Linked DNA regions of Homo sapiens: all the other regions are linked to region 4. The links come from fine-mapping of genetic effects on gene expression. A gene starts in region 4. Each other region holds a variant in brackets. All regions are shown on one strand. Distances are between the middles of the regions.

What was found. PIP is the estimated chance that this variant, and not a neighbour inherited with it, causes the effect. A credible set is the group of variants that fine-mapping cannot tell apart.
Region 1: its variant is the best candidate, but not a certain one, in a credible set for the expression of WBP1L in whole blood (TOPMed, PIP 0.52).
Region 2: its variant is the best candidate, but not a certain one, in a credible set for the expression of WBP1L in whole blood (TOPMed, PIP 0.64).
Region 3: its variant is the best candidate, but not a certain one, in a credible set for the expression of WBP1L in whole blood (TOPMed, PIP 0.58).

The regions. Positions count from the first base shown.
Region 1 is chr10:102,551,190-102,558,538 of GRCh38, reverse strand. The region is part of intron 3 of SUFU (SUFU negative regulator of hedgehog signaling); the gene reads right to left. Among named protein-coding and RNA genes, the nearest start is that of SUFU, 51 kb to the right of the region's middle. The variant T/G (reference allele first, on the strand shown) is at 3,140.
Region 2 is chr10:102,607,043-102,614,161 of GRCh38, reverse strand. All of the region lies in intron 8 of SUFU (SUFU negative regulator of hedgehog signaling), which reads right to left. Among named protein-coding and RNA genes, the nearest start is that of TRIM8-DT, 33 kb to the left of the region's middle. The variant G/A (reference allele first, on the strand shown) is at 2,228.
Region 3 is chr10:102,794,727-102,802,075 of GRCh38, reverse strand. WBP1L (WW domain binding protein 1 like) reads right to left here. Exons shown (of 4, transcript NM_001083913.2): 2 at 3,981-4,083. Among named protein-coding and RNA genes, the nearest start is that of CYP17A1-AS1, 34 kb to the left of the region's middle. RefSeq lists an enhancer at 5,717-5,766. The variant A/G (reference allele first, on the strand shown) is at 3,090.
Region 4 is chr10:102,740,899-102,747,794 of GRCh38, reverse strand. It overlaps WBP1L (WW domain binding protein 1 like), which reads right to left and starts at 3,847. Exons shown (of 4, transcript NM_001083913.2): 1 at 3,652-3,847. The coding sequence starts at 3,741. SFXN2 (sideroflexin 2) reads right to left here. Exons shown (of 12, transcript NM_178858.6): 12 at 4,303-6,896. RefSeq lists enhancers at 2,981-3,210, 4,151-4,200 and a silencer at 3,711-3,870.

The sequences.
Region 1 (7,349 bases), 190 kb after region 4:
TGTAGAAATGTCCAAAGTTTAAAGCCTTGGCTGGGCGCAGTGGCTCGCATGTGTAGTCCTAGCACTTTGGGTGGCCAAAGTGGGTAGAGCACTTGAGCCCAGGAGTTCAAGACTAAAACCTGGGCAACAGCGAGACCCTGTCTCTACAAAAAGTTTAAAAATTAGCTGAGGGTGGTGGTGTGCACCTGTAGTCGTAGCTACTCAGGAGGCTGAAATGGGAAGATCACTTGAGCCCAGAAATTTGAGGCTGCAGTGAACTAAAAAGGTGCTATGGTACTCTAGCCTCTAGTCTGGGTGACAAAGCAAGAACCCTGTCTCAAAAATCAATTAAAAAACAGGCCAGGTGTTGGGGCTTGTGCCTGTAATCCCAACACTTTGGGAGGCCATGGCGGGTGGATCACCTGAAGTCAGGAGTTCGAGACCAGCCTGGCCAACATGGTGAAACCCTGTATCTCTACTAAAAATACAAAAGTTAGCCAGGCATGTTGGTGCATGCCTATGGTCCCAGCTACTCGGGAGGCTGAGGAAGGAGAACTGCTTGAACTCAGGAGGCGGAGGTGCAGTGAGCTGGAATTGTGTCACTGCACTCCAGCTTGGGCAACAGAACAAGACTCCGTCTCAAAAAAAAAAAAATCAGTAAAAAACAAACAAAACACCGAAGTTAAAAGCACAAAGCCCTGTGCCTGCTGGGACTACAAACTGAGAGAAACTGAAACTAGGAATGATGGTGCTCATCTCCCCAGTGGTGGCACATGGGGAGAGTCTGCAGAACAAGATCAACATACAGAGAGTCATAGCTATAGTCATAGCCCAGAGGACCCCATTTGAACATACAGATCAAGCCACACCTGAAACCCTTGTTGTCCCAGTCACCTGAGCCAATGAAGTCTGTTATTGTTTTTCTTTGTTTTTTGTTTTTGAGACAGGGTCTTGCTCTGCTGTCCAGGGTGGAGTGTCCAGTTGTGTGATCATGGCTCACTGCAGCCTCGACCTCCCTGGCTCAAGGCAGCCTCGACCTCCCTGGCTCAAGTAATCCTCCTACCTCAGCCTCCTGAATAGCTGGGACTACAGATGCATGCCACCATGCCTAGCTAATTTTTTCAATCTTTTCACTCTACCCCTGTGGGGTTTCACCATGTTGCCCAGGCTGGTCTCAAACTCCTGGGCTCAAGCAATCTGCCCGCCTCACTGCCTCAGCCTCCCAAAGTATTGGGATTACAGATGTGAGCCACCACGCCTGGCCCTGTTATTGTTTAAGGTAGTTTCAGTTGGGTTTCTGCCATTTTCTTTTTCTTTTTTTTTTTTTTTAGAGGCAGGGTCTTGCTCTATCACCCAGGCTGAGTGCAGTGGCATGATCACAGCTAACTGTAGCCTTGACCTCCTGGGCTCAAACTCAGCCTCCCAAGTAGCTGAGACCACAAGTGCATACCACCACATCAAGCTAATTTCTTTTTTTTTGAGAGGGAGTCTCGCTCTATTGCTCAGACTGGAGTGCAGTAGTGCAACCTCCGCCTCCCAGGTTCAAAGTGATTCTCCATTCTCCTGCCTCAGCCTCCTGAGTAGCTGTGATTACAGATGTGCACCACCATCCAGCTAATTTTTTGTATTTTTAGTAGAGACAGGGTTTCACCATGTTGGCCAGGCTGGTTTCGAACTCCTAACCTGAAGTGATCTGCCTGTCTCGGGCTCCCAAAGTGCTGGGATTACAAGTAATGAGCCACTGTGCCCCACCCATCTTCCTTCCTTCCTTCCTCCCTTCCTTCTTCCCTTCCTTCCTCCCTCCCTTCCTTTTTTTTTTTTTTGAGTCTCACTCTGTCATCCAGGCTGAAGTGCAGTGGCACGATCTGGGCTCACTGCAATCTCCGCCTCCCGGGTTCAAGCGATTCTCCTGCCTCAGCCTCCTGAGTAGCTGGGATTACAGGCACGTGCCAGCACTCCCGGCTAATTTTTGAGTTTTTAGTAGAGACACGGTTTCTCCATGTTGGTCAGGCTAGTCTCAAACTCCTGACCTCAGGTGATCCACATGCCTCGGCCTCCCAAAGTGCTGGGATTACAGGCCTGAGGCACCATGCCTGGCCCATTTTCTTATAACTAGAAGAATCCTAACTAAATCACCCTAATCTGTCTATATCTAGCCATATCTGGAAGCCTTCACTGCCTCTGGATGCTCTTCATTCTCAGATCTCTCCCATTTCTACTTCCTTTTCTCTCCAGCTCAGCTTCCACCTCTGCGCAAACCTCCCAGAGGGTAGCTGTCTGCCAGCAGGTCAGGGCTGTTATAGAAGCCATCTGAGTCATGCTTCAGAGCAGGCTTCCAAGGCTGCCTCATACAGCTCCATGGCTGGCTGTGGGCATCTCCGCCCCCGCCCCCACACCCACCGGAGCCTCATCGTTCCCCTTTCATTCGCCTCCCACTGCCTTGATGCTATTTCCAAGGCTGGGTTGTAGGACTGCGGATGTCACTTAGATCTGGAAAAGCAGGTCTAAACAGTTCACTTGCTTGATTACACTGCTGAGCATGTTCTCACGTGCAAATGGGTGGGTGGAGTGCTCCCCATAAACTCACTAAGTTTAAGGTGGACAGCACAAGTGAGGCAAGACCATCAAACAGAATTACAACACTATGTACGTAGGCAGGTATATCTGTGTACACATCAAACATAAATGACACACGTTCTGTACAGTACATATGCATGTAACTCTTGTAGCGTGTAACCACACAGGGGTAGAGTAATGCCTACAAGTCACAAAGGAGGTGCTCTGCAGCAGCAGCTGAGTGATCTGCTCTGAGAAAACCTGATAGACCTACACCCAATCTTACAAAATATTTACAATAAGGGGCAATTACTTACACTATAGAAAGATTCTTCACCTTATTAAAGGATTTACTACAAGGTCCCACTAAACTGCATAGGCTCTACCGGACTTAGAATAGGGTTTGATTTGCCTAAGACTTCACAGGCAACTACATAAATCAACTACAAAAAACCAAGGAGCCACACCTGAACTGAATGTTTTCAGCTATATAATATGATGTACAAAACGAGGTAATTTTATTTGTATCAATATTACTGATTTTCCGTGTGAGTAAGATAATGCCTCCAAATGTCATCATGTCAGCTGAGGCTGCATATCTGAT[T/G]CAGGGACGAGCAAGACATTTCCTAATACAGTTTTGCTGTTAAGTAGGGTCTGTCATTGAGGAAAAAAAAAAAAAAAAGACCAAGGTGTCCATCTTGATCCATATAAAGTTTTTTTTTTTTTTTTTTTTTGTGAGACGGAGTCTCACTCTGACGCCCAGGCTGGAGTGCAGTGGCGCAGTCTCAGCTCACTGCAAGCTCCATCTCTTGGGTTCATGCCATTCTCCTGCCTCAGCCTCCCAAGTAGCTGGGACCACAGGCGCCCACCACCACGTCCGGCTAATTTTTTTTATTTTTAGTAGAGACGGGGTTTCACTGTGTTAGCCAGGATGGTCTTGATCTCCTGACCTTGTGATTCGCCCGCCTCGGCCTCCCAGAGTACTGGGATTACAGGCATGAGCCACTGCGCCCGGCCAATCCATATAAAGTTTTTAAAGACTGAATAATGATAATGATTGCAGGTAAAACATAGTACTTACTGCGTACCAGGCACATTCTAAGTGTTTTACAGGTATTAATTCACCTCTCGATAACTTCATGCGGTTACTATTATCCCTGCTTTATAGCTGAGCAAATGGATGTACATGTTGCCCAAGAAGGCAGTAACTGGCAGAGCCAATATGAATGCAGGCTATCTGGGTCAGGAGGCCACACTCTTAAACCACCACACCATGCTGCTGCCTTGATCTGGCAGTCACAGGCAGATGGAGAACAGTTCAGGCAAGAGGAGTGGGGATGCGGAGCTACTTAAGCTATTAGCAATGAGTTCAGACACACAGTGCTAAGGATCTAACTATGCAGTGAAATCAAACAAAAGAAAAGAATGATGTTGGAAGTCAGGAGACGGTAAGAGTATTGACTAAAAGGAGACGTAAGGGAGGTTTCTAGAGAACTGGTCTGTTTCTCAATTTAGGTGCTGGTTACATGGGTGTATGTGGTTTGTGAAAACTCATCAAGCTGTACAGTTATGTGTACTTTTTTTTGCTTTGTTTTGTTTTGAGACAGAGTTTTGCTCTTGTTGCCCAAGCTGGAGTGCAATGGCGTGATCTCAGCTCACTACAACCTCTGCCTCCCAGGTTCAAGTGATTCTCCTGCCTCAGCCTCCCGTGTAGCTGGGATTACAGGTGTCCACCACCATGCCCAGCTAAATTTTCTATGTTTAGTAGAGACGAGGTTTCACCATGCTGGCCAGGCTGGTCTCGAACTCCTGACCTCAGGTGATCCAACCACCTCGGCCTCCCAGAGTGCTGGGATTACAGGCATGAGCCACTGCGCCTGACCTGTTTTTGTTTTTGTTTTTGTTTTTTGAGACAGGGTTTCACTCTGTCATTCAGGCTGGAGTGCAATGGTGCAATCACCATTCACTGCTGCCTGTACCTTCCAGGCTTATGCGTAATCCTCCCACCTCAGCCTCCTGAGTAGCTGGGACCACAAGCACGCGTCACCACAATGGCTAATTTTTAAAATTTTTGTAGAGACAGAATATCCTTATGTTGCCTACGCTGGTCCTGAACTCCTGGGCTTAGGCCAACCTCCCACCTTGGCCTCCTGAAGTGCTAGAATTACAGACATGAGCCACCGTGTCTGGCCAAGAGCTGCCATTCAGAGCTACACTGTCTGGGTTAAAATTTGCCTTTGTGGCCGGGCGCGGTGGCTCACGCCTGTAATCCCAGCACTTTGGGAGGCTGAGGCGGGCGGATCACGAGGTCAGGAGATGGAGACCATTCTAGCTAACACAGTGAAGCCCCATCTCTACTAAAAACGCAAAAAATTAGCTGGGCGCGGTGGCGGGCGCCTGTAGTCCCAGCTACTTGGGAGGCTGAGGCAGGAGAATGGCGTGAATCTGGGAGGCGGAGCTTGCAGTGAGCCAAGATCACACCACTGCACTCCAGCCTGGGCAATAGAGCGAGACTCCATCTCAAAAAAAAAAAAAAAAATTTGCCTTTGTACCCACTAGATGTGTGATCTTGAACATGCAGCTCAACCTGTGTTGTCTTGCTTGCTGCAACTGAAAAGCTGGTATATCACAGTCCCTAACCTCACATATTCAATGGCACACAGAGCACAAGTCTAAATGTTAGTCATTCCCATCACCATTTAGGCCCATAGCCATGGTCTCCTATCTTAAATCAGTTACCATTTACTTTTCTTTATCATTTTCCCATTATTTAAACAATTTACTATTATTTCCTACCATGTTCTAAAAAAAATTTAAAGTAGATTTGTTTTACCTGTTATTTAAATAATACAATCATATCACAAGAAATCTGGAAAATAGAAAGTCAAGTATTACACTTTTAGGAGTGTAGTCACCCTGTCCCGTTCTGACGTCCCTAAAGTGATCTGCAGACACAAACTACAGCAGGCACATTATAACGACCATAAGTGGGGCCATCAGGTACAGAAAGGGCCTCAGAGCACATATTAGTCAATGTATACTCAACAAACAGCCACAACTTTTATTTTATTTTGAAAATTTCCAATCCTACAGAAAAGTTAAAAGAATGATACAATGAATAACCAAATACCATTCACCCAGCTTCACAAGTTGTTAACATTTCGCCTCATTTGCTTTAGCTTCTCTTCATACACAGATGTTTTATTTTTTGACAATTAAGTTAAATCATTTGAGTCATTTGACAATTAAGTTAAAGACATCAGGTCCTTTTATCCGTTAATACTTTAGCCTTTATCTCTAGCAACAGGGACATTATCCTGTATAACCATAATACCATAATCACATCCAGGGAATTTCACATACAGTACTATTAACTAATACACAGTGTAAATTCACATTTTTCCAATTGTCCTTAAAAAATGACCCTTTTTTTTCAATTCAGGATCTAATCAAGGATCAACAATGCATTTAAACTGCCATGTTTCCTTTAATGTAGAACAGTCCCTGCCCCTTGCCTTTTTATGTCTTTCATAGCACTGGGGTGCGTGTGTGTGTGTGTGTATTTTTTTTTTAGGTGGGGTCTCACTGTGTCGCCCAGCCTGGAATGTGGTGGCACAATCATGGCTCACTGCAGCCTCAACCTCTTGGGCTCAAATGGTCCTCCTACCTCAGCCTCCCAAGTAGCTGGGACTATAGGCATGCCACCACACCTGGCTAATCTTTAATTTACAGGGTCTTGCTTCATTGCCCAGGCTGGTCTCAAACTCCTGAGCTCAAGTGATCCTCCTGCTTCAGCCTCTCAAACTGCTGGGATTAGAGCATTGACATTTTTGAAGAATATAGGCATTTGTCTTGTAAAGTGTCTCACAATCTGTATTTGTCTGCTTATAACTTGATTCAGGTTAAACATTTTTGGGAAAATGCTACATAGTTGATGTTACATACCTCACACTGCAACACATAAGAAGGTACATAATAAGGTCGGGCACAGTGGCTCACGCCTGTAATCCCAACACTTTGGGAGGCTGAGGCGGGTGGATCACGAGGTCAGGAGATCGAGACCGTCCTGGCTAACAAGGTGAAACCCCGTCTCTACTAAAATATACAAAAAATTAGCCAGGCGTGGTGGCGGGCACCTGTAGTCGCAGCTACTCGGGAGGCTCAAGCAGGAGAATGGCCTGAACCCAGAAGGCGGAGCTTGTAGTGAGCCGAGATCGCACCACTGCACTCCAGCCTGGGGGACAGAGTGAGACTCCATCTCCAAAAAAAAAAAAAAAAAAAAAAAAGAAGGCACATAATAATAATTTGTTCCATTATTAGTGCTGTTCTGTTTCACAACTACTGTGATTGTTACTTTTTTTTTTTTGATACGGAGTCTTGCTCTGTTGCCCAGGCTGGAGTACAGTGGTGCGATCTTGGCTCACAGTAACATCTGCCTCCCGCGTTCAAGCGATTCTCCTGCCTCAGCCTCCCGAGTAGCTGGGATTACAGGTGCCCACCACCATGCCTGGCTAATTTTTGTATTTTCAGTAGACACAGGGTTTCACCATGTTAGCCAGGCTGGTCTCGAACTCCTGACCTCAGGTGATCCAACCACCTCGGCCTCCCAAAGTGCTGGGATTACAGGCGTGAGCCACTGTGCCTGGCCTGCCCTAGTCCCACTTCTGGCCAACTCAACTGGAGCCCCACAGGAAGGTTTGGAAATCAGTGTGTTGACAAGCTCCTCGAAGAGGTTGATGGGCAGCCAGATTTAGGAACTCCTGCTTAGAGAAGACCCATTGTAGCCTCCATGAGGGGACTGTTCCACAGGGCAT
Region 2 (7,119 bases), 130 kb after region 4:
AGCACCATGAGATGCGGCTCCAAGAGTTTCTGTCCAGCTGACCCTGAAGGCTCTGAGGATGCACATTCCGCCAACAGCCAGGAGCTGCAGGGACATTCACACCCTTCATCTAACCAGATGATGATACAATCTGTACTGCTGAGTACAAGCTGGGCTCTTACGAGTCAGACCAGTGGGCTTGGCTGGAAAGCAGAACCGGGCCCCCGCCCTGCTGGGCTTTAAGGCCCCAGGAGCCTGTACCAGATTCCTCCTGACTGTGGCCTTGGCACGGTGAGCTGTCACTGCTGCCCCACACTCCCTCCTGCCTGCTCCCCACCAAAAGTGCGGCCCACGGCTGGGACACAGGGTCCCTTTGCATTCTAAGATTTGCTCTTTCAAATTCAGCTGCCCCCACTGACAACCTCTCAAATCTGCCTCAGCCAGAAATAAGAGTTACCCACTGATCCCATTCAAAAGGCCGGATCCTGGTTTGGGCTGTGAATCTCAGAACAATTCCCCAAGTGTCCATCAAAAACTGGGTGAGAAGCTCTAGTTATTTATCATTCAAGTGGCAGGCAGGAGCCACCCAGGATGACAGCCAGACAGCCACTGAGGGGCAGGCCCAACCTCCTCACACGTTGCGGGGCTAGGTGCTGGGGCCTGCAGCCAGGGTGGCACCCCAACAGGCAGGGCACCTCCCCAGGGGAAGGTGTAGGGTCCGCAGGCCAAAGACAGAGGATGGCCCTGTGGCGGCAGTGGGTTAGACGTGCCCCTGAGGTCATGGGCCGTGCCTGCCTGCTGGCCTTCTCCTTGTGAGGACTCACTCCTGGATCTGACTGTTCCTTCACAAAGCGGTCCCTTCCTCTGCTTTCCTAAAGCCAGCTCTAAAACTGCCTTTTCCCCTGGCTTCGCCTTTGCGCAAGACCTGTGAAGGAGACAAATGCTATGGCCAAGAGGGTCACAGTATTCAGGACTGGAAGGAAACTCTGAGGTTGTTTAATCTCCCTCTTTCCTTTACAAAAGAGAGTGGGTGACGCGTCCCCCCTCACCGTGCGTCAGACTTCTGATCGAAGCCTCAGACTTCCGACCAACTCTCTTTCCCTTCCACCAGGGCCACTGCACCTCCCTTCCTTCTGAGGGAGGCAGCAGTCACAGGTGAGGGCTCAGTGGAGACATAGGGTGCCCTCAGGGCCCAAACAAGAGCAGAACTCAGGAAGCAGTGTTTCCTGAGCCATGTTTCCTGAGCCCTTACTCTGCGCCAACCCTCTGCTAAGGCCATAGGTTCACTCGCTGATTCCTCCCAGCAAGCACGAGGTAGGCTCTGTTGTCAAGCCTTCTTTCACAGAGGAGGTAACTGAGGCTTAGGGAGGTGAGGTGACGAGCCGAAGGGCTCAGAGTGAGTTTAAGCGAAAGGACCAGGGGGTGACTCTCACAATCACTCCCCTGTGCCATCTTTGACCACCGGTTCCTGCCTCCAGACACACTACTGTCCTCCTGAGAGGGGCTGAGGCCTAGCTTGTCCAGGCAGGGCGTGCTAGAGAATCCCAGCCTCTATGGTGCAGGCAAAAATGCTCATGAATAGCAATGGGAGGTGGGGTGGGGGCTTGCAGAAAAGAATCAACAGCACACAGGGCTAGAGACGTCTCAAGCTGGAGGGAAAAATAAATTGTTGAAAGTCAGCTAAAGTCACCTTGGTAACTGCCACAACACACTCACCCAGAACCAGGACATCAAACCCAACTGCAAACAGCCTTAAAGAAATGGAAAAGAACTTAATCATCTGAAGAATTAATGTGACAAGTGCCCACATTTACACCTCCCACCAACCTTCAATCATTTGAAACTGTACTTTAATCTTTTAAGAGAAAAAAAAATTGCAAAATGCAAGATTTGCAGTCCTGGAGCTTGGGTATTTCCGGCATGCTGCTTCGATGGAAACGCGGCTGCTATACACACACACACACATGCGCGTGCACACACACACACACACACACACACACACACACACACACAAGAACCCAGTTTTCTGCTGATTTGTTTCTTCTGGACATCGATGCAGAAGCATGAATTATTTGTGTGGGCTAGGTGAGGTATTAAATCTGCAGCCGACACAGGTTTGCAATGTTTTGCATGGTTGTCAGCTTAATCTTAGTCATAAAAAATAAGTAGTGTGCTCGGCAGCATGGCCTAATTTTTCAGCTGGGCTGTTTTCTCCCTGAGTTCCCAGTGGAGGGGAAGGCATGGCTTT[G/A]GGGGCTGGAAGGGAGAGGGGCTCTCAGGGAGGCACAGCTCATACCCGCTGGGGACTGCCAGGGGCATGGGGCCAAGGCTGTGCTCCAGGAGGCAGAGTGGCTAACAGCTTAAGTTCTGGGTTCCAGTTTTATGTGACATTGGGCTTAACTTCTCTCTGGGCTTTGGTATCCTCTTAACAAGAATAAATAACAATAGGTCATTATGACTAAATGGGATGACTCAGATAAGGCCAATAGTGCCTGGGATGTAGTAGGTGCTCACAATATATCTGACAAGTGCATTAATGTGTTGACGTTAGCTGGCTGCCTCTAAAAGTCTATCTGCTCCTCCTGTAAAAATGTCAATGGCTTAACCAAAACTTGTTTGCCTTTACAACTGCCTCTGGCCAGGCCAGTTCCCTGCTGAACAAAGGTTCTTGCCTGGAGCTTGGGAGAGGGTACTTCTGAGATGGGGCTTGAAAGAGCTCCTGACTCCTTGAGTGGACCCTGCAGGCTTTGGTCAACCACTGGTGCTCTGGAAAGGCCCAACTACAGTCCAACAGAAACACTGAGGCCTTTGCTCTACTGAGGGAGGTGACGCCAGGGCTCTCTTCCTTCTACAGAGCACAAGCTGCCTTCCTGCAATTCTCAAACCACTGTTCTTCAAGTTGCCCAGAGCGAGCTGAATCCATCTTCCCATAACAGACTTTCCAATCCCTGAGGCTGCTCTCACATCCCACCAAGTTTCTTTTTCTACTATCTGTGGCTCTAACTTTTAACTAGATTCTTGACAAGGTTCTGAAATCCTCCATCCATTCAAGTCACCTCCCCTGGGCTCATTCTAACCTGTCAAAGTTTGATGTCCCATCCAGAAGTGAAGTGTCGTGTGTGGCAATAAACATAGTATGTGACCTCACCAGTGCAGATCACAGAGGGACTATGATCTCTCTTGTCCAGGACATTTTATTTCTATTAAAACTGTCATCGAATTATCTACTCTTTGTAACCTCCTCATACTACCAACTCACACTGCACTCCCTCTGTCAACGAAATCTCCCTCGGGCTTTCTCCCATGGGATGCCCTGGGACCCGTTCTCCCCCATATGTCTGGCTGATTACATGGAGCTAGGAGCAGAAGAACTCTGCGCTATCTGGCTAGTGTTCCGGCAGTTCGGGTATTTCTGAAACCTGACTCTGGCATCCATCATATTGGCATTCCTTCCTGACTTCAGATCACTGACAAAACTGATAAATTCGTCATCGATGTTCTCATCCCAGGCTTTGATTAAAAAGTAAACAGGAAAGGGCTAGGCAGACAGGCTGACGGACTGACATCATTACTCTTTGGGTATGCTCATCCAACCAGTTATAAATCAACCCAACCTTCCCATCGCCACGGCCCTCACCCTTCTGGATGTTCTCTGGACATTTCTGTTTTGCCTATAATGCTGTCAGAATGTTCTCAAAACATCTTGCTAAACCCCGCCTATATAAGGTCTACAGCACTTCCTTTGTCTACTTGGGCAGGTAAGCATTTCTTTTCTCTTTTTCTTTTTTTTTTTGAGACAGAGTCTTGCTGCGACGCCCAGGCTGGAGTGCAATGGTGTGATCTCGGCTCACTGCAACCTCCGCCTCCCAGGTTCAAGCAATTCTCCTGCCTCAGCCTACCGAGCAGCTAGGATTATAGGTGCCCACCACCACACCTGGCTAATTTTTGTATTTTTAGTAGAGACGGGGTTTCACCATATTGGCCAGGCTGGTCTCGAACTCCTGACCTCAAGTGATCCTGACCTCAAGTGATCTGCCCGCCTCAGCCTCCCAAAGTGCTGGGATTACAGGTGTGAGTCACCGCGCCCAGCCAGGTAGGCATTTCTAAAAAGGCAACGACGATGTTGAGTCCACTTAGCGGTCTTTGGAAAAAATTAAAAATAAATAAATAAAAAGGCAATGAGGATGGTCTGGCAAGCCTGGCTGTTTCTGACTCTCAGGACTCGCTCTTTCCCTTGGAGTGTTCACAGCCTACTTGCTGAATAATCTAGTCCAGAATTTTCACTGAGAGTGACACCAAGCTCACTAGTCTAGAGAGTGCAAGATGCTTTTTGCATCCTGAAACTTCCGAGTACTTCCAGTCTGCCAACACCTCTCTCCCATTCCCTCAAAGATTGCTGACACCAGCTTCATGACTCTCGCCTGCCAATTCTGGTGTTCTGGAGGCACAATACATGTGAGCCAGGAGAGCTGAAATAATAGATTCAACCCTCTTGTCAATGCCTGTGGGACCCTTCCTGGTCTGATAACCATTTGCTTTAATATGGAACCATAACAGAACTTAAGCAAATTTTGCTTTCTCTCTGCCACTGATAAATGTTACTCTGTCCAAACAATTGGGTCTAGGTTTTCTTCTTCTTGCTCCAAAGAGAAGTACAAAAATAATGTCCTTTTTGCTGGTCATTGCACTTTTTTTGCAAGACTCAGTTCTTGAGTTTCAGCTTTTCTTGACCCTGTTCTTTAAAGTCTATGCTGACATAACATCTCTCTCCTTCCAGCATTTGTTCAAATTCTTCCAAATTGAGTTGTGTGAAGTATTCTCTACAGACCTATATTGGTCCCTGGAGGTAATAGACCTCCTTTTGGTTTTCAGGGGACTATTCACAATAATAAGAGACATCTTTATTGAGCACAGACTATGGTGCTGGGTCCCATGCTAATCCTTTGTGTACTTTGCTTCCTTTCATTTCCATCACAACTCTATAAAGAGGCATTATTTTCCCCATTTTACAGATAAAGACACTGAAACTCAGAAACTTAAATAACTAGCCCAAGATCGCACAATGAGTAAAGAGCTGAGATAAAACCCCAAAAGTAACTATAATATTTCTACATTTCTCCTTAAGAAACTCCCATCTCTTTTGAGTGGTCTTTTCTTCCGGGGTTTCAAGACTATGAAGACATATCTATCTTTTCCTTGAATTCTTAAAAGAACTGCCTTCCTGGAAGACAGGGCAGGACTTCCCAAAGGGTATTCGATGGAATTTTAATTTAAGAGAAGCCTCTAGAAAAACAGGTGTGGCAAAGGTGGATGGAATATGTCCCATCTCAGATTAGAGATTCACAAAATGTTGGCATTTTGGACTCTGAGGAGGACAGAGGGAAAATGTACCGGTTTCATTTTGTGTAAGCCAGCATTTTCCAACTGTAGCCAGAGAACCCTCTTCTGGCTGAACACCCAAGAAAATCCCCTAAAACGCTGTGGGGACCTCCTCTAGGGACTACTGGCCCAGGGTTTTCCCTCCTGAACTCTGCCTGCCCAAGCTGCTTTCTCACAGGACTCACACTCCCTGCTGGTCAGAATTGGGTCCACAGCCAAGTTCCCCCCATTATCTTCTGTGCCCCTGAGACAGACACTTTTCAGGGGGCTGTCAGATGATTCTCCATGGCTCACCCTCAACTCTCAGCCTGAGGCTGGGGAAGCTGAAGTTCCCCTGGGCTTGCCTTGGCACTAACTGTGTGCTTTTTACCTGGCACACATCATCCTTTCTTTTCACTGGGCAGGGTAAACTGTAACAGCTCATACAATATCTTTTTCTTTTTTCTTTTTTAGTGTTTAGTCAAACGGTTTCATGAGGGTCATTACAATAGTCACTGTTTTCCCATGCTCCCCTCCTCGGAGACAACTGTCACCTCTGTAGATGATTCTTTCGCATTTTCCTTAAATTTTTTTTTTGTTTTTTTAGACAGAGTCTCGCTCTGTTGCCCAGGCTGGAGTGCAATGGTGCTATCTTGGTTCACTACAACCCCCAACTCCTGGGTTCAAGCGATTCTCCCACCTCAGCCTCCCGAAGAGCTGGGATTATAGGCACCCACCATCACGCCTGGCTGATTTTTATATTTTTGTAGAGATGGGGTTTTATCATGTTGGCCAGGCTGGTCTTGAACTCCTGACCTCAGGTGATCCACCCACCTCAGCCTCCCATCCTTGATATTTTAAATAAACTTTCCCCGGTGTTTCCTTTTCTTTTCTTTCTTTTCTTTTTTTTTTTGTTTGAGATGGAATCTTGCTCTGTCGCCCAGGCTGGAGTGCAGTGGCAAGATCTCGGCTCACTGCAACCTCCACCTCCTGGGTTCAAGCGATTCTCCTGCCTCGGCCTCCCGAGTAGCTGGGACTACAGGCACGCAACCGTTTCCAGCTAATTTTTGTATTTTAGTAGAGACGGGGTTTCACCATGTTGGCCAGGCCAGTCTCCAACTCCTGACCTCAAGTGATCTGCACGCCTTGGCCTCTCAAAGTGCTGGGATTACAGGCGTGAGTCACCACACCTGGCCTGGTATTTCCTTTTCAGGCTTTACCTACTGACTCCCCACTAGGGAAGATGAGCTTTTAGCTCTCTTCCATGCACCTTCCCACCTTTTCAGGATAACTGCACCATCAGTTTGTGTGGACTGGTGTGTTTAAATTTTATGACTATATCAATGCTGTTTACAGTTGAGCCATGTATTATATTAATATACTTTTCCTTTCTGTCATAATTTTCTATTTTCCTTGGATTTAATACCTGTCTTAGTTTTCTATGTGCTTATCACCAATTAAATCAGAATTACTATTATTGGCTGGGCGTGGCGGCTCATGCCCGTAATCCCAGCACTTTGGGAGGCCGGGTGGGAAAATCGATTGAGCTCAGGAGTTCAAGGCCAGCCTGGGCAACGCAGTAAAACCCCACCTCTACCAAAAGTACAAAAAATTAGCCAGGCATGGTGGCATGTGCCTGTGGTACCAGATACTCAGGAGGCTGAGGAGGGAAGATCACTTGAGCTCAGGAGGCAGAGGTTGAGATCACACCACTGCACTCCAGCCAAGGCGACAGAGTCAGACGCCGTCTCAAAAAAAAAAAAAAAATTACTCTTACCAATGGTC
Region 3 (7,349 bases), 54 kb before region 4:
GCTGGGGGAAGGGTAGGGGAGGGTGGAGGAAGGGGAGGGGAGGGTGGGGGGAAGGGTGGGAAGGTGGGGGAGGGGTGGCAGGGTGGGGGAAGGGTGGGGGTGGGGGGAAGGGTAGGGAAGGGTGGGAGGGAGGGGGGAGGAAAAGTGGGGAGGGAGGGGAGAGGAAGAGTGGAGAGGGAGGGGAGAGAGGAGGAGGGAGATGGGAGGGAGGGAAAGGAAAGAGAGAGAGAAAGAAAAAAAGAGAGAGAATAAAAAATGAAAAACGAGTTGGGCAGCACTGACAGGATTTGCTAATAGCCTGTTTTGTGTCACTTCAGGGAAATTCCACTGTCCAGAAACATACCCCTCTCCCTCCTAAAGCCCAAACCAGGGGAAACTGATGCCTGGGTGAAATTCTCCCAAATGATCTCAAGGGCAGAAATTCCCAACTTTGATCTCTCCCTGGAAAATGTAGCTTGCTGAGTGGAGAGAGCCCCAGGATGAGAACAGGGAGGAGTGGCTTTGGGGTTTGGGCCAATGCACATCCTATCCCCTCCCCGCTGGATTACCTTCTGAAGGTAAGAATTCTGTCTCTCCAGTTTCCAGCCCAGAGGAGGTCACAGCATCAACTAGGAACTTGTTACAATTGCACATTCTCAGGTTTTTAAATTCTCAGTTTTGAATCAAAAGCTCTGGGAGTAGGGCCCAGAAGTGTGTGTTTTCGGTAGCCCTTCAGGAAATTCTGATGCCTGCTAAAGTTCAAGAGCACTGGAATAAGGGTTTGCTGAATGAATAACTGATGGAATGATGAATTAAAGTACAGGTGCCGTAAAAATGCATGGAGATAATACTAACAACGATCAGGTCCTTAATAGCCTCAACTACTGCCCCTATTAAACAGGATCTGCCGTTCTCAACACATGCAGGCCCAATAACTGGTTTGGGTTATGAAACATTGAAAAGACATGTGGGAAAGGTTGCCGGCCAGAGCTCAGGTCTATGTGTGCTTGTGTGTCTGTGTAAACCGTGTGTGTGTGTAAGTATGTGTGTGAGAATTGAGAATTTTCCTCAGCACACAGGAAAATGCAGTTTAGTAGAGGTAAAGGGTGGGTAGAAATGGCATTTTTTCCCGGAGGCCTTTCCTGTAGGCAACTATAGTTAAGGAGTTGCCCTGTCTGATGAAAACTCTGCCAAAGGATTTCCTGGCTGAGGAATTTTCTTTCCAAAGGAAGGTGGGAAGGAAATCAGCCCAAAGCCCGTGACTTTCACACTTCAGGCAAAGTTGAGAGGCAGTTAGAGGGAACAGGGTTGAAAGCAACAAAAAGTGCCATTTTGATGAGAACTTCAGGTGTTTGTTCCAACATCAACCTCCCTCCCATACACACCAGGCAGAAGCCATGACCTCAATAAAGAGGGAGATCGGAGGACTTCCTGAGAAGGGCGTTTTGCTTTTATGTCTCCCATGCCTCCAGAACGTGGAAAACACATGCCAGCTCATTTAACGGGGCACCTTTTCTCTCCGTCTAGACACTGCTCTCTGCTGGGCCTCCTTTCCTAAACGCCCGTAGCTAGAGAGACACTTAGCCGTTCATGCAGCTCTTTCTCTGACTTTCTTTAAGCCCTTGGGGTGAGGCACCTGCTTTCCCAGACTACCTCCTTGCCCTCTGGGTCTCCCTGTCCCCACCACTCCACCCCCCTGCCCTGGCTTTGGTGACCCAATTCAGGTGGCTCCTGAGTCGGCTCTGCCAAAAGCCCAGGAGGCTCTGTCAATCTGAGACGGGGCCATGAGCAACTTCGTTCCTTTTCACAACTGATGCCGCCTGGCCAGGACCCAGAAAAACAAACTACAGCTCTGTGGCTTTTTGGCAGCCCAGCTTCAACTTTTGTTTTAACAAAGGGTGGGAAGGAGAATTTGAACCCTGTGGTTATCTGCATTTTAAAACATTTAAACAGAGTCTGTCTACCTGCTTGGCACTGTGTGTCCTCTAGTAAGTTTCTCAGCCCCACCCCTTCTAAAATAGCAACAATGACTGTGCCCTCCTTCACTGCTGCTTATATATCTGCAGGTCTGGTGGGGACATCTTGAGCCTTGTGCTCTCCTGCACTGGACTGCTCCTGGAATTCCTCAGAAAGGCAGATGAGCCCGTCCTCAGTCCTCAAAAGGGAAAAGCGAGGGTGAGGGAGAGGTCTTGTTTGGAGGAACCACTCCTGTTGGCTACAAATACAACTGCATTTCAGATGGACAGACCTCCCAGCCAAGAGTCTAATTTCCTTTCTGGACCAAACAATAGTCCTTCTGGCTGCTTTCTTGCCATATCACTGACACAGGGGTTGATGGGGGGGATGAGAAAGGGGAAAGGCGCAGATAGGATGGTGGGGGCAAGGTCATGGTTTGACAAACCCGAAGTCTGTTTCCAAATGGAGGCAGTGATGAGGGCTTAGAATCATCTGGGGAAACCGCCTGCAGTCTCCTTTCTCAAGAGACAATTGTAAGAACTACGGCAATGTCAGTCACCTGGGGCCTCGCTGTCCTAAGCACCACCCCCCCAACACCCTCTCATTCTTTGTCCAGCATCCTACACTGTCTCGTCTGAGTTCCAGGAAGGTCAGAGTACAAAGAGTGTCAGTTGAAGCAACCTTGGGTCACTCCCTGAAGACCCTAACACCATCACCACTGTCGTGCAACTTGAAGAAGCAAGTGGTTCTGGCTTCAGTCAAACCAGTGGCAAGACAAAGATGGTTTCCACATGGCATTTTTCTTTTTTTTTTTTTAGATGGAGCCTCGCTCTGTTGCCCAGGCTGGAGTGCAGTGGCGCAACCTCGGCTCACTGCAACCTCCGCCTCCCGGGTTCAAGTGATTCTCCTGCCTCAGCCTCCTGAGTAGCTGGGACTGCAGGCACACACCACCATGCCCAGATAATTTTTGTATTTTTAGTAGAGAGGGGGTTTCACCATGTTAGCCAGGCTGGTATTGAACTCTTGGGCTCAAGTGATCCACATGCCTTGGCCTCCCAGGGTGCTGGGATTATAAGCGTGAGCTACTGTGCCCAGCCTCCACATGGGATTTAGCTGACAGTAAAAGGTTAGGTACACTGGAGAATCCTCCAGGA[A/G]CTTCCATGTGAGAACTGGGTAAGAAATAAAAGGAGCTGAGCCTCAAGACTCCCTTTCTCCAGAAGGTCCTCTATAGGCAAGGACCTAGGGAAAGACTGTTCCTTTCCGAAGGACCCTCAGAAACAGAGGCACTCCATGAGGTTCTATGGGAAATTCTGGAAGCCCCTGTGGTCCTTACAAGAAAATGGCATAGTGACCATCTAGAGTGGCCTGGCATTCATAGTAGCTTGGCTTGCAACCTCTCTCTGCAAAAACAGCAAGCCAGCCAGGTGTGGTGGCTCACGCCTCTAATCCCAGCACTTTGGGAAGCCAAGGCGGGCAGATCACGAGGTCAACAGATCGAGACCATCTTGGCCAATACGGTGAAACCCCATCTCTCCTAAAAATACAAAAATTAGTTGGGCATGGTGGTGCACACCTGTAGTACCAGCTACTCAGGAGGCTGAGGGAGGAGAATCAGTTGAACTCGGGAGGCAGAGGCTGCAATGAGCTGAGGTTGCGCCTGCACTCCAGCCTGGTGACAGAGCGAGACTCCGTCAAAAAAAAAAAGAAAGGCAAACCTGGGCTTCTGGGAGGGCCCAAGGAAGCATCTAAGTTGTTGTCAGCTGCTCAGCACACAATGGAGAGGGCAGCCAGGAGAACCTCAGGCAAGAGCTTCTGCAGCAGACCTGGCTAAGACCATATTCTCTAGTCTTCAGCTAACAAAGTCCAAAGAGCACCAGAACTCTCTTCCTCTACAAAGGAAGCACTTCTGGAACCCATAAACAGATTCCACTCACCAACACTGTCCCCAAGAGAATCCGAAAAGGGCTAATGCCCAGAGTTTCCCACTAAGCAGAGGCAGTAACTGGGACCCTGGGATACTGAGAGGCACCCAAGCAAGGACTTACACCAGAGTTCATAGTAGTAGTTGCAGCACTGAGACTGTCCACAGCAGTGTCCTGTGTCACAGATGTAGCTTTGATTGTTGGTACCCACACAGGCTTCCTTATCCTAAAAAATTAAAAAAGCATGTTAGCATATTAAATGACAGCTTTTGAACACTTTCCTTCTCATCATTGTCCTCCTGGTTGTCTATTCACCAGCCCCCAAAACAGTTTGTATCAATGTTTATTCCATTAAGAAAATCAACTTTGGCCAGGCGCGGTGGCTCACACCTGTATTGCCAGCACTTTGGGAGGCCGAGGCAGGCAGATCGCGAGGTCAGGAGTTCGAGACCAGCCTGACCAACATGATGAAATCCCGTCTCTACTAAAAATATAAAAATTAGCCAGGCGTGGTGGTGCGCGCCTGTAATCCCAGCTACTCAGGAGGTTGAGGCAGGAAAATCGCTTGAACAAGAGAGGCAGAGATTGCAGTGAGCCAAGATCACGCCACTGCACTCCAGCCTGGGCGACAGAGCGAGACTCCATCTCAAAAATAAAAAATAAAAAAGACAAACAAACAAAAAAAACTTTAAAAGATTTACACAACAACAACAGAGTTTAGGGGAAAAAATATGGTTTATTAAAGAGGAGAGGAGATTCAGGACACAAAAGCAATTGGCAGAGTGAAGTTTTCCTCAGACAGGACAGGCAAGGGCTGCCTCACTTTAGGTCCAAGTAGAAACATTTCATGTTCCGGTGCTAACCTCAGCCGGTAGGAGGGTGATGATTCCCTGGTAATTAGCAGTACATTTTAAATAAAACTGGCTTTTCTGTGAAACTTCCTGGAATAATTAAAGCGGTATGTATTCTAGGATTAGCATCTGCTCAGTTATTCCATTCTTCTTTTTAAAACACTTTCTCTCCAAGGTTAATTCACAGTGTGATCCTAAAGAGGGCAACAACAAAAAAAATCTACAACTGAAATTCTTTACTTTTCAATAAAGGGCCGAACTGCTCAGATAACCCAGTCTAATTTCAATCTGCTAGATCATTTTTGCTTATTGAAAAAGAATCCTGACTGGATCCAGGATTCATACTGTCCCTTGTCAGGGACACTCACATAAAGGGCACTACTGAGTGGCCATCTAGCTGTCTGCCAAATTCTGTCCACAGCACTGGTGGATGAGGATGGAGGGGAACTTTAAAAAAAAGTTTCACATGTAAGATATAAAATACCTCCCAGACCAACGTTAACCTCAGCCCAAAATGTACTTGGGGCCACTATGCAGATGACGAAACCTGTAAGGCATCTGCTATATGTGGCCTTCAACATTTCTTCATTCTAAACAATAACACAGTCACTTACTGGACGCTGTCTTTGTGCCAAGCATTGTGTTGGGTTCAAGGGATACAAAGATGAATAAGACATTGTCCTTATCCCCAAGAAGCTCAGAGTTAAGAAGGAAAAAAGCCCTGCTCAGCAAATAAACTAAAGCCACAGTATTTGCGGCAACTCAGGCTGGCCCTGCCCACAGTGCACATCCGGCGGACAGCTGCCAGTGGAAACTGAAGTCACATGGTCGGCTCCTCCTCTCTGGGCCATGCTTTACTACACTGTCTACTTGGCCAAGGGTATACACCAGGCACTCCAGTGACTGTCTACAGGGCTAGAGGCTGGGCAGAAACAGGACTGGCACCTGAAGCCACACGGAGAGGACAAGAGAAAGCACAGGACTGAAAACCAGTTCCCCGGCTTAGTGCACGTTTCCACCATAAATCTTTAGGTGTTTCTTGGTCTTAAAAACTTTACATTCTGATATGACAGTTTAGAAAGAAGGAAACGAGAAATTCATAAACCCTGACAATGAGGCCCTCACAACATTGCACGCAGAGTTCCTTCTATGTGCTCCTTCCCCCGCCGCCCCACCACCACCCTCCCATGTCCACCATAAGCAAAATGAGACACTGGCTATCAAGTTGGATTTCTCATACCATCTACTTAATCCTGTACTAAAAGTGAAAAACAGAATGATTTCTACTGGCCATGTATGCCATTCACACCATCATAGCTGAAAAACCATTAAGTTGAACCATCGCAAGTTGTGGACCATCTAAATATCTTGTCCCCTGTACTTCTTCCTCCTTCCGTTTTCACCATCCCATGCCCACCACAAACAAAATGAGACACTGGCTATCTAGTCAACTTCTCCTCTGAAGCCTGGTGCGTGTGGAAAAAGCAGATCTATGCTTGCTACTTTGGCCAGAACACACACTCTTTGACTTCAGAGCAAAACATGCCTTTCATAAAAACATCAGAAAGTTTCTCCCCAGTTTACCAGGCCCTGCGAATGCCATTCTTCCGGCACTGGCTTAAAAGAGCACAGTTCAAAGTGTCCACATAGTTTCTAAAAGAGGCAGTGGTGCCTACACTTGGCACAAGAAAGAATCCAATGACACTTCTGTCTCAGGAAAATTCACCAGAGGCAGCCCAGGCTCGGAACACATGGCTGTCAACTGGTCTTAAGTGAGACATAGAGTGGAATGCATTTGAAATCTAAACAAGTGGCATCCTCATGACCTACTGCTGTCAGTCAGCTTTTCTCTCGGATCTTCTGTGCACCGAGGCAGGGGGCCTGGAATAAACAAGACCTCACTCTGCTTCACCGTTCTGCCTCCGCTTTCCCAGGGAGAGCAGAACAGTGGAAGCATCATTTAATCCAGTGTTCCTCAAACAGTTTTTAACACAGTACGGAAGTTTCTCGGCTTACGATGGGGTCATGTTCTGGTAAACCCATCATAAATTGAAAATATCGTCAGTCAAAAATGCATTTAACACAGTTAATCTACTGAACAGCATAGCTTAGCCTAGCTTACCTTAAACTGCTCGGAACTTACATCAGCCTATGGTTTGGTAAAATCCTCTAACACAAATTATTTTACAATAAAGTATTGAATATCTCATGTCATCTACTTAATACTGTATTAAAAATGAAAAACAAATGATTTCTACTGGCTGCATGTATCAATTGCACCACCATAAAGTTGAAAAATCACTAAGTTGAACCATCACAAGTTGTGGCCATCTATATATCTAGTCCCCTGTGGTCCTTCTCCCTCCTCTAAATACAGAGTCCCTGAGCTGCCTGGGATAGTCTTGGTTATGGGAACTGTCATTTTCTGCTGCAGCGGTACGAAAGAAGGTGTACCTCTAGCAAGGAAGAGGTGAAGGAGGATTCAGGAGATAGTGAGATATGAGTGCCAAAGTGAGTTCCTTCAGAGAGACATGCTGGTGTCAGTCAATAGTGGTATGGAAAACCCAGGAGCCTTGGGTTTGGCCCCAGCTCTCCTCGCACCCCCCTACTTTTTTCTTTTTCACTCAGAGTCTAACTGTTG
Region 4 (6,896 bases):
ACACTCTGGGAGGCTGAGATGGGCAGATCGCTTGAGCCCAGGAGTTTGCGACCGGCCTGGGCAACATGGCGAAACCCCATCTCTACAGAAAAATACAAAAATTAGCAGGGCGTGGTGGCATGCACCTGTAGTCCCAGTTACTCAGGAGGCTGAGGTGGGAGGCTCGTTTGAGCCTGGGAGGTCGAGGCTGCAGTGATCCAAGATCACATCACACCACTACACTCCAGCCTGGGCAACAGAGTGAGATCCTGTCTCAAAAACAAAACAAAAACAACAACAACAAAAACAAACATTCTGGTTAAATCTAAACAACCAAAAGAAACTCTATGTATCTCAATGATAATTTAACTGGAGGAAACAAACGCCAAGGCTGTCGGAGCCTTACTATTTGGAGCATCTACTGTTTTCTCATTCTTTTTTTTTTTTTTTTTTTTTTGAGACGGAGTCTCGCTCTGTCACCAGGCTAGAGTGCAGTGGCATGATCTTGGCTCACCACAACCTCTACCTCCCACGTTCAAGCGATTCTTCTGCCTCAGCCTCCCGAGTAGCTGAGACTACAGGTGTGCCACCATGCCTGGCTAATTTTTGTATTTTTAGTAGAGACAGGGTTTCACCATGTTGGCCAGAATGGTCTTGATCTCCTGACCTTGTGATCTGCCTGCCTTGGCCTCCCAAAGTGCTGGGATTACAGGGGTGAGCCACCATGCCCAGCCTTTTTCATTCTTTATAGATTTAAGGATTCACGTCTGTGAGTTGTAATGTCATAACCTGTAGGAGAGTTAAGTCTAAGTTCCTAACCACAGAATGAACTAGCTGATGAACTTTCCAGGGCCTGCCTGCATAAACAAGAAATGGCTGTTTCAGTGCAGAGCTGGTAACAGGGAAAGCAAGTTGCCTAGTATCATTTATTTCTGATGGTAAATGTGTATGTAAAAAAAAGATTGTGCATGTAAAAAAAAGATTGTATTGTAAGTAGATCAATTTTGTGGGAGAAATGCAATAAGGTACCAATACCATTATTCGATACAGAATGAGTATAGTAAGTCCTCCTGAATTCAAAGTTAGCTGGACTTCATTGTTGAATTAAGGACCATGGGTACTTAAAGTATGCCCTGTGCCAAAATGGCCTTGGGATTTTTTTTTCCTTACTGATTTGTACAAGCAACCCCTTCCCCCACCCCCCCCAAAAAAACCCAAAAAAATACACTGACTAAATTGCGGTGGATTCAGAGTTAATAATTATATAGTAACTTGCATTCCGAAGGTTAAAATTCAAAACAGAAATCTCACTATAGATATCTAGTACTCCCAGACAGAAAGAGACAGGAGTATAAGGTGGGGGATGGAATTGTATAGGGAGCGTCAGGAGTGAGGGTATGTGGGGGCTGGTTAGGAAGAGGGCCACTGCTCATTACGAAAACTTTCCCTTCTCTGCAGGAATTGTAACCGTGTAACAGCTGTTGGTCAGTGATAGCATTCATCCAAATGGAACAAAGTACAAAAGACACCTGTCCCCAAAATTAAGTATTAGAAGTGCCACAGATATAAGAAAGCAGCCTGTGGTTTGCAAACTGCAATTAGAATATAACATTAACAATCCCCTTCCACATGTTCACAACACCTCCCAGGCTCCACGACCTGGTAGGAACCTCCACTTTCCATCATCCCCGTTGCTGAAAAAGTGGATCTAGTTCCTATCTTTGACCAGCCCATCTCCAAAGGCTCTGACATTCCTAAACCAAACCTCTACCGATGTTATTTATTGGTTACTGGGGACAGCCTTTTCGAGATACTTACAGAAACAGACATGTGCAAAGGAAAAGTAAATTCTGTATTTACTATATTCTATATTTTGTTGTCAATACCTATACTTAACTTTACTGGTCCTGAGGGCTATAACATTTCTAGTAAACAAAAAAAATATATTTCTTCTGCCAGTTTATGATTTCCACTGGAAAAACAACCCCAACAAAGGCTAAAACAGAAGGGTCCCAACCCTCGAAAAGGGAATACACTGGGCTAGAAAATGAGCTACATTCCTTTCACATGGTATTTCTAGTATACACAAACATATCCTGAGGAAAAATTAGACACTTCAATGCATAAATAAATTGTGGTTTACAGATAACAGAATGTTACTTGGTCATGAACAGGAATGAAGTACTAGTACATGCTACGATGTGGATGGGCCTTATAAACATTACGCTAAGTGAAAGGAGCCAGGCACAAAGACCACATATTGTAGGATCCCGTTTATATAAAATATCCAGAATAGATAAATCCATAGAGACTGAAAGCAGACGGGTGGTTGCCAGGGGCTGGGGGAAAAGGGAGACAGAGAGTAACTGCTTAGTAGGGACGAGGTTTTCTATTGGGGTGATGAAAATGTTTTGGAACTAGATAGAGGTGGTAGTTGCACAACATTGTAAGTGTACTAAATGCCACTGAATTGTTCACTTTAAAATGGTTTTTGTCATGTGAATTTCAACTTATTTTTTAATCAGTATTTTAAAATAGAGGATAATGGGCAAAACAAGATGTATTTGTGAAAAGGCAGCCCTAAAACTCCTAGGGAAAAGATAAGTATTTTTGCTGGCACTCAGTTTCTGCTCTTGTTCACAACACAAGTTCAAGCGCTAAGTTGTATAAACTTTGCCACTACGCTATGCGTCTATGTGTGTATGCCTTTCTGAAAAAACGGGGAAAAGAACAGAAAGTGAAGAAAAAAGAATCATAAAGCTTTGCCACATGCAAGGAAGGAGGGGTGATTGCCCCCACTGCACCCCACCCAACTTGGCACCAGGAGTAACGCTCCCATTAGGGTTTTGAAATGCCAGCTGGAGCTGGAATCAGCACAAGCAAGCTTCTCTGCCTGGATAAAGAGCAAGCCACCCAGCAAGAAAAGCTAGGGTGCTCCATTTGCTGCCCATATTGGCATCAGAACCACCCTCTGGTCAAAAGCCCTGAGCTGGCTCAGATCAGCATCCGTGACTTGCTCTCCCAGGCCAGCCAGCCTAACAGCAAGAGCTTGTTACAGCTCAAGTGTGCTCCTCCTCCTGAGGGGTTCCACTCTGTTTCATCCCACCTGCCTTCTGAGAGTCCTCCCTCCAACCAAGTGCGCCATGGCTTACAGATTTTAAAATGGGGCCAAGTCTCTCCCAGGAACATAGTAATTTTTTTTAAACGTACTAAGATGCCCTCGGAACTTTCCCCAGTCCATCCTTAAAGAAATATCCTCAGGATCCCCTCCCTCACAGGCCAACTCAATAGCCTGTGTACCCCTACACACACAGACGTACATACTGCATTACTGCCTGGGACACCTGCTCCACAGAGGGACACGAATAAGGCCCACATCCTCAGCTTGGCACCGCTATCCAGCCACAGTCACCCCAGCCCACCTAACCAACCTGCCGTCTCAAACGCCCCTCACTCGCTTGGCATCATGCCTCTGCCACCTCCTTGACACCAAAACTGTCACAGGTGTCCCTCAGCTAAATACCGACGCCCCTTTAGATCCTGTCCACGCCAGGCATAGACGCCCCTCTCGGGACCCCTCAACTCTTGGCAACAACACTCCTTCAGACCCCTCCAGCCAGGCCTCGACGACCCCCAGGACCCAACATGGCCCAGACGCCCCCTCCCCCTTACCTGCGGGGGTTCAGCCCTGGCTGACAAGGGGCTGGGCAGCGCCTGGAGGAGCAGGAGCGCCATGCCACCCAGGAGCCTTCTCCTCTCCATCCCCCTCCTGCTCCTGCTCCTCCGCCACGGCGCCGCCACCTCCCTCCTCCTCCTCCCTCTCCTCCTCTACCCTCTTCTTCCTTCTTCCCTTCTTTTCCTGTTTGACGCTCCCCTCCCGCTTCCGGCTCTGCTCCACCCCGCCCCGCGCAAAACACCCTCCCAGACACGCGAGAGACTCTCCAGTTCCAGCGCTTCATTGGCCTTTGCCCTTTGTCCATTGATCAATGTAGCTGTCGATCAAATATAAGTCCCGCCTTCCCCTGAAGACGAAGCGATGCAGCCAATAAAAAGTAGGAGGAAGCCGGACCATCTTGAATGCTGCGAAGAAGTGTAAAATTCGTCCCAACCCGCAGAGAGTGGCGGAAGCAGCTTCATAAGGGGGCGGGGCCACCCAGGTGGATGGAAAAGTCTATTTCTGATGTAGCCATCTTGAGTGTGGCGGAAGTACTAGTTTTCCAGTTTTCCACATCAAAAAAAGAAAAAAGGTTTAATGTTTCTCAAGGGTGTTGGAAAATAAATTATTCCTGAAAGGTAACCAGGCGCTCCTGAAGAGGAAAACAATTGCAATGTAAAAATATTTTAATGTCTTTTGTCTTGAAGCACAGCACTATTACCAGGATGCCTCTCTTGGTCTCAACTGCCCAAATAGCAGCTTAGGTCCGTTTGAATTCCCTAGAAGATAGTACCTTTATCTGAGGCATAGTGCTTCGTCACCCCAAGTTCGACGGACAAAATTCTGGTTCTACTTCACAAATTGCTCTGAAATCCATCATCCATTGCTTCAATCCATGTTCTTCTAGCTAAATACAAATGGCTTCCCTGCTGCCCTGCAAGTTGACAATTCTTCCTCTCAAATTTCCGCCACACACTACAACCATACCACATTAAACCAAATATTACTATATCATGGCCTCTTCTTTTAAATACTTCATCTACCTACAGAATAGAGAGTCCAAACTTCCCAACACGGTCCTCTCTGTGACTTCGTCCCTGTCTACTTCTCTTTATCTCACCTCTCACCACTACATTTTCCCACACATTCCACTCACACTGACCATTGAAGAGATGCCCAGTAACTTCATTTACATATTACAGATACAGTTCCCTGCTTACAAACTCCTAGCCCCATCTCCTTGCTGCTTCTTCTGGATTCTTGTAACACTTATATCTGCGTGCCTGGTTTGCAGTTTTTTGTACAGCATACCAGGTCTTTCTTCTTCTTCTTTTAAAGCCTATAATATCCTGTACAAGGCTCAACCAGAGCTTGATCAATGTTGGTAAAATAGCCAGGTGTGGTGGCTCATGCTTATAATCCTAGCCCTTTGGGAGGCTGAGGCAGGTAGATCCCTTGAGCTCAGGAGTTTGAAACCAGCCTGGGCAACATGGAGAGAACCCTGTCTCTACAAAAATAAAAAAACTAAATTAGCCAAATTAGCCAAGCATGGTGGTGCACACTTGTAGTCCCAGCTACTTGGGAGGCTGAGGTGGGACAATCACCAGAGCTAGGGAGATTGAAGCTGCAATGAGCCTTGATTGTGCCACTGTACTCCAGCCTGGGCAACAGAGTGAGACCCTGTCTCAAAAAAAAAAAAAGGCCAGGTGCGGTGGCTCCTGCCTGTAATCCCAGCACTTTGGGAGGCCGAGGTGGGCGGATCACATGGTCAGGAGTTCGAGCCTGGCCAACATTGTGAAACCCAATCTCTACTAAAAATACAAAAAATTAGCCAGGCGTGGTGGTGCATGCCTGTAGTCCCAGCTACTCAGGAGGCTAAAGCAGAAGAATCGCTTGAACCTGGGAGGCAGAGGTTGCAGTGAGCCAAGACTGTGCCACTGCACTCCACCCTAGGTGACAGAGTGAGACTCTGTCTCAAAAAAAAAAGAAAAAAAAAAGTTGGTAAAATAAATGGACAAAGGAAGACCCATGGCAAATAACACAGTTGACTTTAGCAGTCAATTTCCTCTCAAAAACCTGTCAAAGTGTTTTACAGCCTGGCCCAGTCTAGCCCACATCTGAGCCCAGAGGAAGTTGTTCTTGGCTTAAGTGTTGGAAAAATGGGAAACAGGTAAGAGTTAAGTCAGTCTTCCCTCAGCTTAAGAAAGTCCATAGTTCTGCCTTTATCTTGATCCTGCTTTTCCAAGTACTATAAAAAGTGACACGTATTTTTGCCAATCTCTCGTTTCTTAGAAATTTATCCATTCCACAAGTCAAGCTCCTTAGAGGAGAAGTAAAAATTGAGTACTAGGGAAGGACCAAATTATTTTCATGGCACAAGGTCTCTAATTCCTGGCCTCAAAAAGTTGTAAGTCTTCCACATAAAGGCTAGGTTTCATCATCACTAAGAAACCCCAGGTGGGATGTAGTGGCTCACGCCTGTAATCCCAACACTTTGGGAGGCCAAGGCATGAGGATTGCTTGAGGTCAGGGGTTCAAGACCAACCTGGGAAACATAGTGAGGCCCTCTGTCTACAAAAAATTTAAAAATTAGCTGGGCATGGTGGCATGTACCTGTAGTCAGGAAACCTTTAGGATTCTGGTTCTAGCCAGGATTGAGGAAAAGACCTTGGATCAAAAGGAAGCTTCTATACCTCTTCTTCTTCCCTTCCTCCTCCTCTCCCGAGCAATGGAACCTTTTACCCATGCTATTCTAGCCGAACTCAGGAAAAAGAAGCTACTCGGGAGGCTAAGGCAGGAGGATCACTTGAGTCCAGGAGGCTGAGGAAGCAATGAGTCATGATCATACCATTGCACTCCAGCCTGGGCAAGAAAGTGATACCCTCTTTCTCTCAATAAATAAGAAACCCCAATTCAGTTTGGCAAACACAGGGGATTTTGCCCCAACTTCCCTTTCTCCTTTTACCTGAAAGCTCAAGCTGAGCTATTGGATAGGACAGTCTGGATTAGCACTTCCCACACCAAGGCCTTTTAGTAACCTTAACTGCCTCTTATTCAACATCCCACAGCAGCCAACTCAAAGAAGAGAGATGTTACAAAATGAGACTGAGATGCAGTTTGAGTGACCACTTTTTAGAATGTCCCTGAACATTATAGCCACCACATACCTTCCAGACATTTCCAAAAGAGCAGTTGTCTATAAGAGAACAGGAAATCCAAGAGGCTTGAGGAGCTGAGAAGGAAGGGGAAACATTGTATGTTC